Linked DNA regions of Homo sapiens: regions 2 and 3 are each reported to be linked to region 1. Evidence: microRNA targets listed by miRTarBase, many of them from high-throughput screens and not tested one by one. Region 1 holds a microRNA gene; each other region holds the end of a gene's coding sequence. Distances are between the middles of the regions.
Evidence for each region. The annotated mature microRNA hsa-miR-4632-3p reads UGCCGCCCUCUCGCUGCUCUAG and lies in region 1 at 3,622-3,643, shown strand. An mRNA with a match to its seed (bases 2 to 7 or 8) in the 3' UTR can be bound and repressed. Matches are read on the target gene's strand: a 7mer-m8 pairs with bases 2 to 8, a 7mer-A1 pairs with bases 2 to 7 and ends in A, and an 8mer does both.

Region 2: miRTarBase lists AGRN as a target of hsa-miR-4632-3p. Seed matches in the 3' UTR shown: 7mer-m8 at 1,723-1,729.
Region 3: miRTarBase lists MEX3D as a target of hsa-miR-4632-3p. Seed matches in the 3' UTR shown: 7mer-m8 at 4,672-4,678.

What each region holds. Positions count from the first base shown.
Region 1 is chr1:12,188,131-12,193,130 of GRCh38, forward strand. MIR4632 (microRNA 4632) reads left to right here and starts at 3,583; the gene lies at 3,583-3,643. TNFRSF1B (TNF receptor superfamily member 1B) reads left to right here. Exons shown (of 10, transcript NM_001066.3): 2 at 666-765; 3 at 2,827-2,955; 4 at 3,644-3,793; 5 at 4,301-4,394; 6 at 4,733-4,968. RefSeq lists enhancers at 704-1,241, 3,588-4,139.
Region 2 is chr1:1,054,308-1,059,392 of GRCh38, forward strand. It overlaps AGRN (agrin), which reads left to right. Exons shown (of 36, transcript NM_198576.4): 35 at 141-244; 36 at 517-1,809. The coding sequence ends at 674. Among named protein-coding and RNA genes, the nearest start is that of RNF223, 17 kb to the right of the region's middle. RefSeq lists silencers at 128-310, 5,005-5,085 and an enhancer at 4,418-5,085.
Region 3 is chr19:1,550,757-1,555,841 of GRCh38, forward strand. It overlaps MEX3D (mex-3 RNA binding family member D), which reads right to left. Exons shown (of 2, transcript NM_203304.4): 2 at 3,916-5,085. The coding sequence ends at 4,807. Among named protein-coding and RNA genes, the nearest start is that of MEX3D, 15 kb to the right of the region's middle.

The DNA of each region.
Region 1 (5,000 bases):
GAGATTGAGGGTCTAGAGATGACAAGGCTGCCACCTCTGCTGTCTGCATCACATGAGTGTGTGTGTACACATGTGTGTGCATACATACCCACAGGGGGTGGAAGGACAAGCAAGTAACCATTCCAGAACAATGAGATGACTGTTAGAGGGGTCATAACCCACGTTTAGAGAGAGCCGAGAGGAGGAGGAGGAGGAGCTTGAATTAGCCTTGGGTAGTCAGGGAGGGCTTCCCAGAGGTGGCAGCACTCATCTTGAAAGACAAAGGGATGTTTCAGGTGCAGGAGGGAAGGAGAGGTATCTTCCTTCCTCAGCAGAGGGCAGCTTTGTGCTGAGAACCCCCGTTCTCTGTGACCAAGGCCACTGTCTTCTGGATATCTGTCCCATGCAGTGTTAGGGGTCACCCAGCACTGGAGAAGGCCAGCAGAGTCAGTGCTTCTGCCTGCAGACATGACTAGGGTACACTGAGGTGGGGAGGCAGGGGAGGTAAAAGAAGGCACGAGCTCTCCTTCCTGTACCCTGCTCCAGGGGGAGAAACCTCCCCAGCCATCATCAGTGCAGACTGGCAGGGGGAGGGCCAAACATTTGCAGGGCGGGGACCTGGGCATCAGGCATGGCAGAACCCAGGGGCGGCCCTGTTGATGGCAGTCTTCCCTTCTTCCTTCCAGGTGGCATTTACACCCTACGCCCCGGAGCCCGGGAGCACATGCCGGCTCAGAGAATACTATGACCAGACAGCTCAGATGTGCTGCAGCAAATGCTCGCCGGGTGAGGGCAGCCACGGGGGCACTCGGGGCCCATGCCCTGGAGGAGCGTGTGTGTACAGGGGCTGGGGCGCAAGAGCATAGCCCTTGATTCTTACTGAACTCCTAGTTCTATGCACTGGCCCATGCTCCCTGCTGCTTCTGGGCCTGTGAACATGCTGTTCCCTCTTCCTGGCACACTTCCCAACTCCCTTTCCCTGATTAACTCCAACTTGCCCTTTAGACCTCAGCTGAAGATGTCCCCTCTTCCAGGAAGGCTGCCTGCCCCATACTGCCCAGCCGGTGGAGGAGGGGGAGGAGGAGCCTAAATTAGCTCCTGGGGGAGTCAGGGAGGGCTGCCTGGAGGAGGCAGCACTCAGCTTGAAAGACAAGTGCTGCCTCCTTTGAGCTCTCACTGGCCTCTGATGTTCCCATGGAAGCTCTTTCCTTGCTGTGGGATTATAGCCCGGTCCTGCTTCCTGTTGCCTCCACTGTGTGCTCCTCTAGGGCAGAGATTGTGGCTTGTTTTCTGCTGAATCCCCAGCACGTGGCGCAATGCCATGTAGGTGCTCAGTGCATATTTGACTGACTCTGTGAATGCTTACCCATTTCACAGATGGTAGACCTGAGGCCCAGCCACAGTTGGTGGAGCTAGGTAGCCTGACTCCTGGTGCCCTCCATCTATTCATTTGTGTCTGTATTCATTCATGTCATGATTATAAGGTATCTGCTGTGTGTTCTAAGTGCTGGGAATACACAGAGAGCAGGGCAGACAAAACCCTTGCCCTCGTGGAGTCTGCATTTTAACGGTGGATGCAGACAGATACATTAGGAGATGTGTGGTCCTGTCTATCTGTAAGTGCTGTAGAAAGACAAGGTCAGGTAAGGCGGGGGAGACAGAACGGGACATACTGTTTTACACAGGGTGGTCTGGGAAGGTCTCTCTGAGGAGGTGACATTTGGGCAGAGCCCTGCAGGAGGTGAGGGAGCAGGTCATGCATGTATACAGGGAACAGTGTGCCAGGAGGAAGCAACAGCATGTGCGAAGGCCTTGAAGTCGGAGCCTGTTTGGTGAGTTGGAGGAACAGCAGGGCCAGCATGTGTGGCCCAGGATGAGCGAAGGCGAGTACGGTAGGGGAGGAGGAGGAAGGAGTGAGCAGGGACCATGGTAAGGAGTTTAGATTTTATTCTGTCTGGGAGCCAATGGAGGGCTTTGAGCCGTTACCTTGAGATGTAGGTGGGCATATGAGTACCTGTCACCGTCCCTAGCCATTTTAAGACATCCTAGGGAAAGTGACTCTCTTCTTTCTTTTATTAACTGGAAGGGTCTCTTTAAGAAGTTACTAGAGAGGCTGAGGTGGGCGGACCACCGGAGGCCAGGAGTTTGAGACCAGCCTGGCCAACATGGTGGAACCCGTCTCTACTAAGAATACAAAAAAATAGCTGGGCATAATGGCAGGCACCTGTAATCCCAGCTACTTGGGAGGCTGAGGCAGGAGAATTGCTTGAGCCTGAGAGGCAGAGGTTGCAGTGAGCCGAGATTGTGCCACTGCACTCTAGCCTGGGCCACAGAGTGAGATTCTGTCTCAAAAAAAAAAAAAAAAAAAAAAGCAGCTACTGAGTCAACTTTTTTTTAAGGTTTCCGTTGGTGTTCTCTGTCCCTGGAATGCCTGCTTTCCAGGCCCATGCCCTTGTCCTTGATAGGATACCAGGGACTACATTCTTACTACCTGTTCCCCCTATCATTCATGCCCCTAGCTGGAGAATATTAGCCATCTATCAAGAAGGAAGAAACTGGCAAGCTAGTTCTTACTAAAGTGTGATTGACTGATAATAGGGCTCCAGTGGTGGAGGTTCAAGCATCTGGAAAGAGCAGAGAGGAATCTATTTTTGAGCAGAAGGGGTTCAGAAATGACGTGATAGCTGGTACAATACTAGATGGGAGATGATTCTGAGGAATTGGAACTCCACAGAATAGCCTTCCCAGCTGGGCTTTAGAACTCTGGACTTTGTGGGGACAGTGGATGAGCCCAGGGTCCTGGCAGAAGGCTCGCCCAGCTGAGACCTCTGGCCCTTGTTTCCTCAGGCCAACATGCAAAAGTCTTCTGTACCAAGACCTCGGACACCGTGTGTGACTCCTGTGAGGACAGCACATACACCCAGCTCTGGAACTGGGTTCCCGAGTGCTTGAGCTGTGGCTCCCGCTGTAGCTCTGGTGAGTAGGTTCAGAGAAAAAGGGGGCCCTTACACCCCTGCCTCCAACTTCCCCCGGCAACTCCAGCCTCTTTGGCTTCCAGCTGTCTGGAGTTACCCCAGGCTGGTTGTTGGAAGTGGCACAGGTGCAGCTGTTTACCCCTACCACTGGCATTTTCCTCCTCTGTCTCACCAAAGCCTCTTCACAGCCCCACGGGGCAGGCGGTGGGAGAACTGTGCCCACGTGAGGGTTGAGGAGGTGGTGCGTGGGAGAGTGGTGCGCATGCTCGTGCTGCGAGGAGCAGGACTGCGGGGAGGAGCGAAACTGCTGGGAAGAGCGGGACTGCGGGGAAGAGCGGGACTTCGGGGAGGAGCGGCACTGCGGGGAGGAGCAGGACTGCAGGGAGGAGCGGGACTGTGGGGAGGAGCGGGACTTCGGGGAGGAGCGGGACTGCGGGGGACGAGCGCGACTGCGGGGGACGAGCAGGACTGCGGAGAGTAGCGGGACTGCGGAGAGTAGCGGGACTGCGGAGAGTAGCAGGACTGCCGGTCCTGCCCCTGGACTCTGGCCGGTGTTGTGTGTGCCCCATGCTGAGGCGGTCCGCCAGCCTCCTGGAGATCCGCTGTCTGAGAGTGCTGGGCTGTCTGGGAGGGCAGCGTGGGTGTGGCGGAGGCAGGCGTGACCGTTTGCCGCCCTCTCGCTGCTCTAGACCAGGTGGAAACTCAAGCCTGCACTCGGGAACAGAACCGCATCTGCACCTGCAGGCCCGGCTGGTACTGCGCGCTGAGCAAGCAGGAGGGGTGCCGGCTGTGCGCGCCGCTGCGCAAGTGCCGCCCGGGCTTCGGCGTGGCCAGACCAGGTACGGGGTGGGGCTCAGGTCCTTGGGGACGCCCATGGGCCTCTCCTTTGTAGACATCCTTGCAGTGTCACGGGCATCAACCCATTAATTAGTCCAGCAGGGAGCACTGTTAGTGGTGGCCAGGTGCCTGCTACCCATCCGTCTGTCCACCTGTCCACCGTTCATTCTTCCTGCCAGCACTCCCGATTAGGCACCTCTTATGTACTGGAACCAGGAGACCCAGAGATGGATCAGACCAAGCCCTAAGCTAGGAAAGTTATGTGATGCTGCAAGATGAACTCACATAACTCTACAGCCCAATCCCGTGCATGTGTGTACAGGAATCTGTGTGTGTGCATGTGTGTACAGGCATCTGTGTGTGTGTGTGTGTGTGTGTGTGTGTGTAAGGGGTGGAGGTGCAGACAGAGCTCCTTGGGCCCCTCAGACCTCTCCTAGGGCTCTAGTGCCAAGGCCCAGCTGTCCCGCAGAGTGTCTGAGTGGTTGACAAGTTCGGATTGTTCCCTGAAGGAACTGAAACATCAGACGTGGTGTGCAAGCCCTGTGCCCCGGGGACGTTCTCCAACACGACTTCATCCACGGATATTTGCAGGCCCCACCAGATGTGAGTAGCTGAGTCCTTTGGTTCTGGAGGAGCAGGGAGGGGCTGTCCCTGGGTGACTGTGGGTCCAGGACACAGAGCAGCTCACCAACCACCATTGTCCAGACTGCTTTATCTGAGGGTGGCTCCCAGGATAAATGGCATGGTGGGCAGGACCTTGCCCTGGAAGGCAGGACTGGGTGGGTGCATGGGGAGGTGGGGGAGGGCTAGGAGGGGGTGGTCCTCAGAGAGGGCACACATCGTCACTCTCCTATCCTGCCTGCTGGGGCCCGTGAATGAGCCCAGCCACCCCAGCCACTCTGTCCCCTGCTGCCTCCTGACCAAGCCTCCTCCTCCTCCAGCTGTAACGTGGTGGCCATCCCTGGGAATGCAAGCATGGATGCAGTCTGCACGTCCACGTCCCCCACCCGGAGTATGGCCCCAGGGGCAGTACACTTACCCCAGCCAGTGTCCACACGATCCCAACACACGCAGCCAACTCCAGAACCCAGCACTGCTCCAAGCACCTCCTTCCTGCTCCCAATGGGCCCCAGCCCCCCAGCTGAAGGGAGCACTGGCGACTTCGCTCTTCCAGTTGGTAAGTCGCAAGAAGTCTCATTCATTCACTCC
Region 2 (5,085 bases), 11 Mb from region 1:
TCCTTGCCCCCAGGGGTGATACCTCGGGGGTTCTCCAGGCTGAGGCACCTGCAGGGCATAGGAAGGATGCAGGGCTTATGGTCTAGAGGAGGCAGAGGGAACTCTGGGCCCTGATGGTCTCCCCCTCCCTGCACACCCAGGGAGCAGAGGGAAGGTTCCCTGCAGGTGGGCAATGAGGCCCCTGTGACCGGCTCCTCCCCGCTGGGCGCCACGCAGCTGGACACTGATGGAGCCCTGTGGCTTGGTGAGTGTTTTGGGGAGACTAGAGAGGGATGCCCAAGGGTCTCATGATATCCGAGGGACAGACTCCACCCCCCAGCGCCCACCCTTGAGTCAGGGTGCATGTGAGCCGGCGGGCTGGGCTCTCTTCTCCCGCTGTAGCCCCTGCAGTTCCCAGTGCTGTGGGGCCGGGAGGCGGGTGCCCAGGTGTGGGCCCCCTGCTGGTCACCTGCTCGTTGGGGTGCCCATCAGCATCACTGAGTCACAGCCGGGTGACTCCCACTGTCTGTGCTGCAGGGGGCCTGCCGGAGCTGCCCGTGGGCCCAGCACTGCCCAAGGCCTACGGCACAGGCTTTGTGGGCTGCTTGCGGGACGTGGTGGTGGGCCGGCACCCGCTGCACCTGCTGGAGGACGCCGTCACCAAGCCAGAGCTGCGGCCCTGCCCCACCCCATGAGCTGGCACCAGAGCCCCGCGCCCGCTGTAATTATTTTCTATTTTTGTAAACTTGTTGCTTTTTGATATGATTTTCTTGCCTGAGTGTTGGCCGGAGGGACTGCTGGCCCGGCCTCCCTTCCGTCCAGGCAGCCGTGCTGCAGACAGACCTAGTGCCGAGGGATGGACAGGCGAGGTGGCAGCGTGGAGGGCTCGGCGTGGATGGCAGCCTCAGGACACACACCCCTGCCTCAAGGTGCTGAGCCCCCGCCTTGCACTGCGCCTGCCCCACGGTGTCCCCGCCGGGAAGCAGCCCCGGCTCCTGAATCACCCTCGCTCCGTCAGGCGGGACTCGTGTCCCAGAGAGGAAGGGGCTGCTGAGGTCTGATGGGGCCCTTCCTCCGGGTGACCCCACAGGGCCTTTCCAAGCCCCCATTTGAGCTGCTCCTTCCTGTGTGTGCTCTGGGCCCTGCCTCGGCCTCCTGCGCCAATACTGTGACTTCCAAACAATGTTACTGCTGGGCACAGCTCTGCGTTGCTCCCGTGCTGCCTGCGCCAGCCCCAGGCTGCTGAGGAGCAGAGGCCAGACCAGGGCCGATCTGGGTGTCCTGACCCTCAGCTGGCCCTGCCCAGCCACCCTGGACGTGACCGTATCCCTCTGCCACACCCCAGGCCCTGCGAGGGGCTATCGAGAGGAGCTCACTGTGGGATGGGGTTGACCTCTGCCGCCTGCCTGGGTATCTGGGCCTGGCCATGGCTGTGTTCTTCATGTGTTGATTTTATTTGACCCCTGGAGTGGTGGGTCTCATCTTTCCCATCTCGCCTGAGAGCGGCTGAGGGCTGCCTCACTGCAAATCCTCCCCACAGCGTCAGTGAAAGTCGTCCTTGTCTCAGAATGACCAGGGGCCAGCCAGTGTCTGACCAAGGTCAAGGGGCAGGTGCAGAGGTGGCAGGGATGGCTCCGAAGCCAGAAATGCCTTAAACTGCAACGTCCCGTCCCTTCCCCACCCCCATCCCATCCCCACCCCCAGCCCCAGCCCAGTCCTCCTAGGAGCAGGACCCGATGAAGCGGGCGGCGGTGGGGCTGGGTGCCGTGTTACTAACTCTAGTATGTTTCTGTGTCAATCGCTGTGAAATAAAGTCTGAAAACTTTAAAAGCATTGCTTTTGTCCATCCTCACCAGCGCGCTGGCCCGTTGGCTTCTTGCTCCGCTTTGTGGTGGGAGCACGGACTTGGAGCTCCCTTGGGTGGCCCTGGATGGAGCCAGGCCCTGCACAGGGATCCTTGTGGCTGATGAGGCCCTGAGTGGGGAGCACACACTGCTGAGCACTGTGGGAGGCGGGGCCGTGGAGGCAGGAGGCTCTCTGGCGTGCACGTGTGGGTGCGTGTACGTGTGGGGGTGTGTGTGTGTGGGTGCGGGTACGTGTGGGTGCATGTGCCTGCTCTCTGGCGTGCACGTGTGGGTGCGGGTACGTGTGGGTGCGGGTACGTGTGGGTGCATGTGCGTGTGGGTGCGTGTGCCTGCTCTCTGGCGTGCACGTGTGGGTACGTGTGGGTGTGGGTGCGTGTGCCTGCTCTCCGGCGTGCATGTATGGGTGCATGTACGTGTGTGTGGGTGCGTGTGCCTGCTCTCCGGCGTGTATGTGTGGGTGCGTGTGCGTGTGGGTGCGTGTGCTTGCTCTCCGGCGTGCATGTGTGGGTGCATGTACGTGTGTGGGTGCGTGTGCCTGCTCTCCGGCGTGTATGTGTGGGTGTGTGTGCCTGCTCTCTGGCGTGCACGTGTGTGTGTGTGTGTGTGTGCCTGCACACATAATTGGCCCACATCTGTGTCAGAGCACAGGGTTGGGAGGAGGCTGCACCCAGGACTGGAAGGGTCTGGGGGGAGCCAGGGTGCGTGGGGCTGTTGGGCAGCCTTTTCACTGGCCCAGGTGTGCAGAACCAACCCTTGGCACTGCTGGAAGCCCCTAACTAGAAACCCCTGGGGTAGCTGGGCTCCTGGACTCCCTCTAACCTGCTTCCTAAATTAGTGTGTGGGTGACAGCACTGCAGAAGCTGAGCCTCAGGGAAGGGCGCGGTGGCTCACACCTGTCATCCCAGCACTTTGGGAGGCTGAGGCTGGAGGATCGCTTGAGGCCAAGAGTGGGAGATCAGCTTGGGCAACATAGTGAGACCCCATCTCTGCAAAAAAATTTCTTTAATTAGCCAGGCGTGGTGGTACACACCTGTAGCTCCAGCTACTCCGGAGGCTGAGGCAGGAGGATCACTTGAATCCAGGAGGTTGAGGCAGCAGCAAGCTGTGATTGCACCACTGCACTCCAGCCTGGGTGACAGAGCGAGAACCTGTCTAAAAAACAGAGCTGGCACCCAGCACCGGCAGATGTGAGCCCTGGGGAGAAGCAGGGGAAGAAGGGGTAGGGTGTGTGGCCAGCTGGGTGGCCCTTCGCAAACTGCTGTCTCTTATGAAAAATAACTAAGTGTAGTTTTCTATTTTGTATTAATGATTTTAAAAAAAAAGCCAGGTGCGCTGGCTCACACCTGTAATCCTAGCACTTTGGGAGGCCGAGGCGGGTGGATCACCTGAGGTCAGGAGTTCAAGACGAGCCTGGCCAACATGGTGAAACCCTGTCTCTCCTAAAATACAAAAACTGGCTGGGCATGATGGTGGGTGCCTGTAGTCCCAGCTACTCCGGAGGCTGAGACGGGAGAATTGCTTGAACCCAGGAGACGGTGGTTGCAGTGAGCCGAGATCACGCCATTGCACTCCAGCCTCAGTGGCTGAAGGAGACTCCGTCTCAAAAAAAAAAAGAAAAAAGAAAACCACAAAAACATCGAAATAAAATAACACCAATGGCTGGGCACATTGGCTCATGCCTATAATCCCAGCACTTTGGGAGGCTGAGGCAGGCGGATCACCTGAGGTCAGGAGTTCAACACCAGACTGGCCAACATGGTGAAACCCTGTATCTACTAAAAACACAAACATCTGGGCGTGGTGGCAGGTATCTGTAATCCCAGTTACTCGGGAGGCTGAGGCACGAGAATCGCTTGAACCCGGGAGGCGGAGGTTGCAGTGAGCCGCGATTGCACCACTGCACTCCAGCGTGGGCGACAGAGCGCGACTCCGTTTCAAAAAAAAAATGAAAAGATAATACCCACAAGCTCCACACCCAGGAGGTCCCATGCGTCTGAGTGTTTGCTTTCTGGGCTTTTCATCACCTGGTCCTCTGGGGATATGCTGACCGACCCTGTGTGCCTGGCAGGTGTCAGGCACTGGGGGTCGGGGAGGAGAGAGTCCAGGAGCGGTGGCCACACACAGGTCGCTGACGGTGGGGGGCCAGGGTGGGGGCAGACTAACTTTGGTTTTCAGGAAAGGTCCAGAGAAAACACGCCCAAACCCAGACCCGAAGCATGAGCAGGGGGAGGGCAGGTGAGGAGGCCAGAGGCGGGGCATGTGGTGTGGGTCCATTGGACGGTGTGCAGGGCCCTGTGGCTTGACAAAGGGATCTTTCAGCAGGAAGCGGAGGCGTAGGAGCGGCCAGAGGCCAGCGTGCAGGACAGAGGCCACAGGTCAGAGCAGCAGAGGCTGGACAGAGATGGGCAGGGCAGGTCCAGTGGGGCTGCGTGGGCCTGGGGAAGAGAGCTGGGGGTGCTGCCTGAGGAGCTGTGGGAGGCTCCTGGAGGGCTCCAAGCAGGAGGCCACCAGATTTCATGAAGACGCCCCTGGCTAGGACAGGGTGCTAGGCTGCAGGGGGAGCAGAGGGAGGGATTTGGGGGAGAATGGGCGGGTCGAGGGGGGTGAGAAGAGGCGCTCAGGGACGTGGAGATGGAGCTGGAGGCACCGGAGCTTTGGGTGGATTCGCCCTGATGCGTCTGGAGGGATGGCTGGGCTGGGGAAGCTGGGGTTCCCTGAGTGGGGTCCAGGGGGCCGAGGGGTGCCAGGCAGGGAGAGGCTGGGCTGAAGCCTGAGGCAGGTGCTCCTGCTGGGTGTTGCCTAGGAGAGGAGAAAAAGCCCCGACGCCAGAAATGGAGGAGGGAGGAGGACCTCGGAGGGGAGGAGGAGGGTGCGCAGAACCAGGAGAGGCAGTTTGGGGAGCAACCGCTGCGGAGCGCGCAGGACCCAGAGGACTCAAAGGGGACCTGGAGGGTGACGAGGCCTTCCGTGGCCGGGGGTGAGGAGGAGGGAAGCCGCGCGGGCGGAGAGGCGCTGGTGGGTCCCAGGTTGGAGGCTGTGGGTCTGAGAGGCGAAGCCCAGGGGAGCCCGGGGCCACCGCTGAAAAGGATGGCAGCTGAGCGCAGGCGAGGGAGAGGCGCGCGTGTCCGGGACAGACCGCGGTGGGAGCTCGACTCCGGAAACCGGCGGGCCTGGGGCTGGGACCTACAGGGAGGCGGACGCGGCACAGCCAGGGAGGTCGGTCCCGCGGGCCCCGCCCCGC
Region 3 (5,085 bases), not on the chromosome of region 1:
GGTGGACATGGGGCACGGTCTCTACCCTGGGGACATCCCAAGGGACACACGGTGTGTGGATGGTGCGTTCTTCCCACCAAGGGACACAAAATGTGTGGGTGGTGTATCCTTCCCACGTGGAGCCTACAGATGGGAGAACCACAGCCCTGCCCCTCAGTGTCCCCCGTGTCTGATGAGACCTGGAACAGGGGATTTTCAGCAGACATTGGACTAGGGTCACCCCACCATGCCAAGTCCATGAGTCAAAGGAGGTGAATGACAATAGCAATGAGACTTTGTGCCCAGGACACAGGCCAGGCCTCAGCCCTTGGCTTCCCTGAGCTGTGCCGAGACATGGAGAGGCCAATGCATGGGATCCTTGCTTTGCCATTGCTGCCCAGCCCCTCTAGAAAATTCTTCCAGCTCCTTGGTCAGAAATGTGGTCCCTGTAGGTGGTTAGAGTTTCAGTTGTTCCAACTGCTATTAGCTCTGATGATGGAAAGGTTGGCATGGAAAAGTTGGCTTTCAGGCACAGCTGGATCCAGGGCCTCGTGCAGCAACTTTAAGAATCCAGACTGGACCGGATGCAGTGTCTCATGCCTGTAACCCCAGCACTGTGGGAGGCTGGGGCGGGCGGATCACTTGAGGCCAGGAATTCGAGACCTGCTTGGGCAACATGAAGAATCCCCGTCTCTACAAAATATACAAAAATTTAAAAATATACAAAAAATTAGCTAGGCATGATGGTATGTGCCTGTGGTCCCAACTACTAGGGAGGCTGAGGTGGGAAGATCGTTGCAGTCCAGGAGGTCAAGGCTGCTGTGAGTTATGATTGCACCACCACACTCCAGACAGGGCAACAGAGCAAGACCTTGTCTCTTAAAAAAACAAAAACAGAATCCATCTCTGGCCATCTCTTGTGCTGTGCCCAAAGGCCACAGACACTTCAGACTCTCATGTGCCAGCTGAGCAACCCTGCAGTGGGAGTGAGCTCATCCCTCGGATGTCTCCGGAAGTCCTGGGACCAGCATGGTGACACCCCTGGCCCCTGGCTGGGGGGCCTCAGCTCCTCTATATCACTACATCAGAAACGCCTAGAGCAGGTCCTGGCCAGTCTAGACTTGGGCCCTGCCCTGGCGGGTCACCCAGCAGCCTCCCCAAGCTTTGCCATTCCCTTCCGCCGGGCAATTCCCCACCCCACCTCCCAGGGTCTTTGCGCCTAGCTCTGTCATGTCCTCTCTTCTCCCAATTTTTTTTTTTTTTTCGTCGTTGTTGTTGACAGAGTCTTGCTCTGTCACACAGGCTGGAGTGCAGTGGTGTAATCTCGGCTCACTGCAGCCTCAACCTCACTTTGCTCAAGTGATCCTTCCACCTCAGCCTCCCGAGCAGCTGAGACTACAGGTGTGTGCCACCACGTCCAGCTTCCTCCCAGTGTGGAGGTGCCTCTCCTCTCCCCAGCCTCCCCTGCAGTTAGGTGACAAACTGACCCCACTTGGGGCTCCCCGGAAGCAGAGCTGCTCCATGACACCCCCTGAATCCTTGCAGCACCAGACAAAATCATCCCCTTCTGCCCACTCTATCGGAACCCGGGGGCTGCAGGAACCCTCATATCCTTCCAAAAGACTCTCCTCCACCCCTTTGACATTTGTCCCATCTTTGATCCCTCGACCCCTTGGGGGCTGCTCTCATTCTCTCCATGACCCAATTGCAGAGAGGGGAGGGGGGCATCCGCACACCCGCCCCTCCCTGCGGCCTTCTGCAGTCTGGCTGAGGCACGAAGTCAGCCCAGGTCACAGGGTGTGTGGCCTGCAGCCGAACCCAGCCGCTCCGCACAGCTGTGGCCAGACCCAGGTTAACAGTCCCTCCCGGCTGGGCGTGGTGGCTCACACCTGTAATCCCAGCACTTTGGGAGGCCAAGGCAGGTGGATCACGAAGCCAAGAGATTGAGATCATCCTGGACAACTTGGTGAAACCCCATCTCTACTAAAAACACAAAAATTAGCCGGGTGTGGTGGTGGGCACCTGTAATCCCAGCTACTCAGGAGGCTGAGGCAGGAGAATCTCTGGAACCTGGCAGGTGGAGGTTGCAGTGAGTCGAGATCACGCCCGGCTAATTTTTTGTATTTTTGGTAGAGACGGGGTTTCACCGTGTTAGCCACGATGGTCTATGATCTCCTGACCTCGTGATCCACCCACCTTGGCCTCCCAAAGTGCTAGGATTACAGGCGTGAACCACCGCTCCCGGCCCCTCTCCCTCTCTTATAAAAACACTCATGGCCGGGTGCAGTGGCTCACGCCTGTAATCCCAGCACTTTGGGAGGCCGAGGCGGACAGATCACGAGGTCAGGAGATCGAGACCATCCTGGCTAACACGGTGAAACACCGTCTCTACTAAAAATACAAAAAATTAGCCGGGCGTGGCGGCAGGCACCTATAGGCCCAGCTACTCGGGAGGCTGAGGCAGGAGAATGGCGTGAACCCGGGAGGCGGAGCTTGCAGTGAGCCGAGATGGCGCCACTGCACTCCAGCCTGGGCGACAGAGCAAGACTCCGCCTCAAAAACAAAACAAAACCAAACAGAAAAAAAAAAAAAAACAAAAAACACTCATTATTAGATTTAAGGCTTGCTCTAATTCAGGATGATTTCATCTTGAGATCCTTAATTATATCTGCAAAGACCTTTTCCCAAATAAAATCACATTCTCACTTTCTGGGGGACTCCTTATTTTGGTGGGGGGACTCCATTCAACCAATGACACGCCCCTCAGTCTCACCGAGAGGGAGTTTGGGCCTCGAACACCCTGCGTTTTGCGGAGGAGGGAGTTCCAGGCCAGGGGCCTGGGTAGGGCTGGGCTTGAACTCAGGTGTGCGTCTCTGGTGGTTCCTCTCTCCTCCTCGCCTCCTCCTGGAAGCTCTCCAGGCCTCTCTTCCACACGTGCTTCTCTTTCCCTGGTGGGTTCTAAGTCCCAGGCCCCTCCCCAAGGTCCACTCCCCAAGCCTGCAGCCTGTGTGCCCGGCCCCTTCCTTGTCCCCGGAGTGGCCCATCCTGACACCCAGGGGCTTCCTGGCTGTTTTGGGATGGCGCGCTGGGACAGCTCACCATGGGTCCAGCCTGTGGTCTTTTTTTTTTTTTCTTTTTTTTTTTTTTTTGAGACGGAGTCTCACTCTGTCACCCAGGCTGGAGTGCAGTGGTGCAATCTCGGCTCACTACAAGCTCCGTCTCCCGGGTTCACGCCATTCTCCTGCCTCAGCCTCCCAAGTAGCTGGGACCACAGGCGCCCACCACCACGCCCGGCTAATTTTTTTTGTACTTTTAGTAGAGACGCGGTTTCACCGTGTTAGCCAGGATGGTCTCGATCTCCTGACCTCCTGATCCACCTGCCTCGGCCTCCCAAAGTGCTGGGATTACAGGCGAGAGCCACTGCACCCGGCGAGCCTGTGGTCTCAACCCCAGCCCTGAAGAGCTATATCTGGTGGCCCCATGTGTCTGTCATGGCTCCCAGAGCAGTGGGGGGATGACCACGGCTCAAACGTCCTTCACAGACCAGGATGCATCGGGGTCAAACCTGGGACGGGCATTTCCAGGCCTCAGTTTCCCCATCTGCACGACCGCTGGACGGTCTGTTGGGATGGATCCCACACACCCAGAGAGCTGGGCAGATGTCCCTGAGGAAGGACAGCCTGGGTCCCCTTTCTCTGTGGGATCCATGGTTGAACACCCACAGGGATGGGGAGGACCTGAGGTTTGCTCACGGGGAGCCCAGCTAGACCCTCCCCCACAGACCCAATTCCTTCGTCTGGAACAAGGGACAGTGCCTGGTCGGGGTGAGGGCCTGGACCACGGAACTGGGGGGTTGAGGGGCTGGATCCGGGTGTCCCCTGCCCCGGGGTCTCCCCTCCTGGTGCCCATCCCCCACACCACGCTGAAGCCGTGTGCTCACATGTAGAAAAGAGGCTTTATTAAGAAGGCTTTGAAGTCAAAAAATAAAACTCTTGATACAATTTTTTTAACCCTTAAATCAGCTCAGCAAATATATAATCAGTAATTTAGCTGTGTAAGATTAAAGGTCCATTACTTTATTTAAAATAAAATATATTTTAGTTCTTAAAATTTATTCCATAAAGTACATATTTCCCTATAAATTCCCTACATATACACAAGAGGTAAAAAGTAAAAGTAAAAAAAAAAAAAAATTAAAAAAATTTTAAAAATGACAACAGAAACCGCAGTAAAAAGGGGATTAATAATTAACAGAAAGTTAGAAATTTGATTGGAACGCCCCTCGCCCCCGCCCCCCTGCCCCCTCCGGCCGCGCACGGTTGATGTACAAAAGCATAAATGGTTAGCCCCAAAAAGGGAGTAAAAATGTCACCCTCCTCCTCTGGAACGTCTGTGCGGCCTGAGACCGGCCGGCGAGAAAAGTCAAATCAGAAAACGGCTTCGGACGAAAGGAAAAAACGCTGAGCGCTGGAAAAGTCGTGTTTTTTGTTTTGCTTTTTTAAAGATCACCCTGGAGGGGAGGGGTGTCTAAAAATAAGAAAACTAAAAAAAGTGCAAGCGGACCTTTTCTCTCCGGTTTATTGTAACCTGACCACTCAATACTGTCGTTGAAGGGCTGAGGCGCCGCCGGGCTGCGGGGTCTCCGTCTCCACGCCTGAGGCGGCAGTTAAAGCTCATCTGTAAACACTGGCCGCCGCCCACCCCCCTGCCCCCTCGGCCTCCGCCCCTCGCCCCCTCCCCGTCCCTCTCCCACCCCGGGTCCCGCCCCGTCTCCCGCGCCCACCCCTGGCCCCCGCAGATGGCCCCGGCCACGTGGTGGTCCGCGCTCTAGGAAAAGATATGAATGGCCTGGGTGGCCGGCGTGCGGCAGGCGGGACACTCGGGCTCGCTCTTGCCGCAGATGCGGACGGCGCAGTCCATGCAGAAGAGGTTGTGGCCGCAGGGGACCAGCGCAGCCATCACCTCGCCCTCGGCGCACACCACGCACTCTCGCGCCAGGGCCGGGGCCGAGGACGCCGAAGGGGGCTTGCGGCTGTTCTCGGAGGCGCCGGAGTCCAGGGGGGCGCAGGCGGCGGCCGCGGGGCTGCTGGGCAGCGAGGTGGCCGT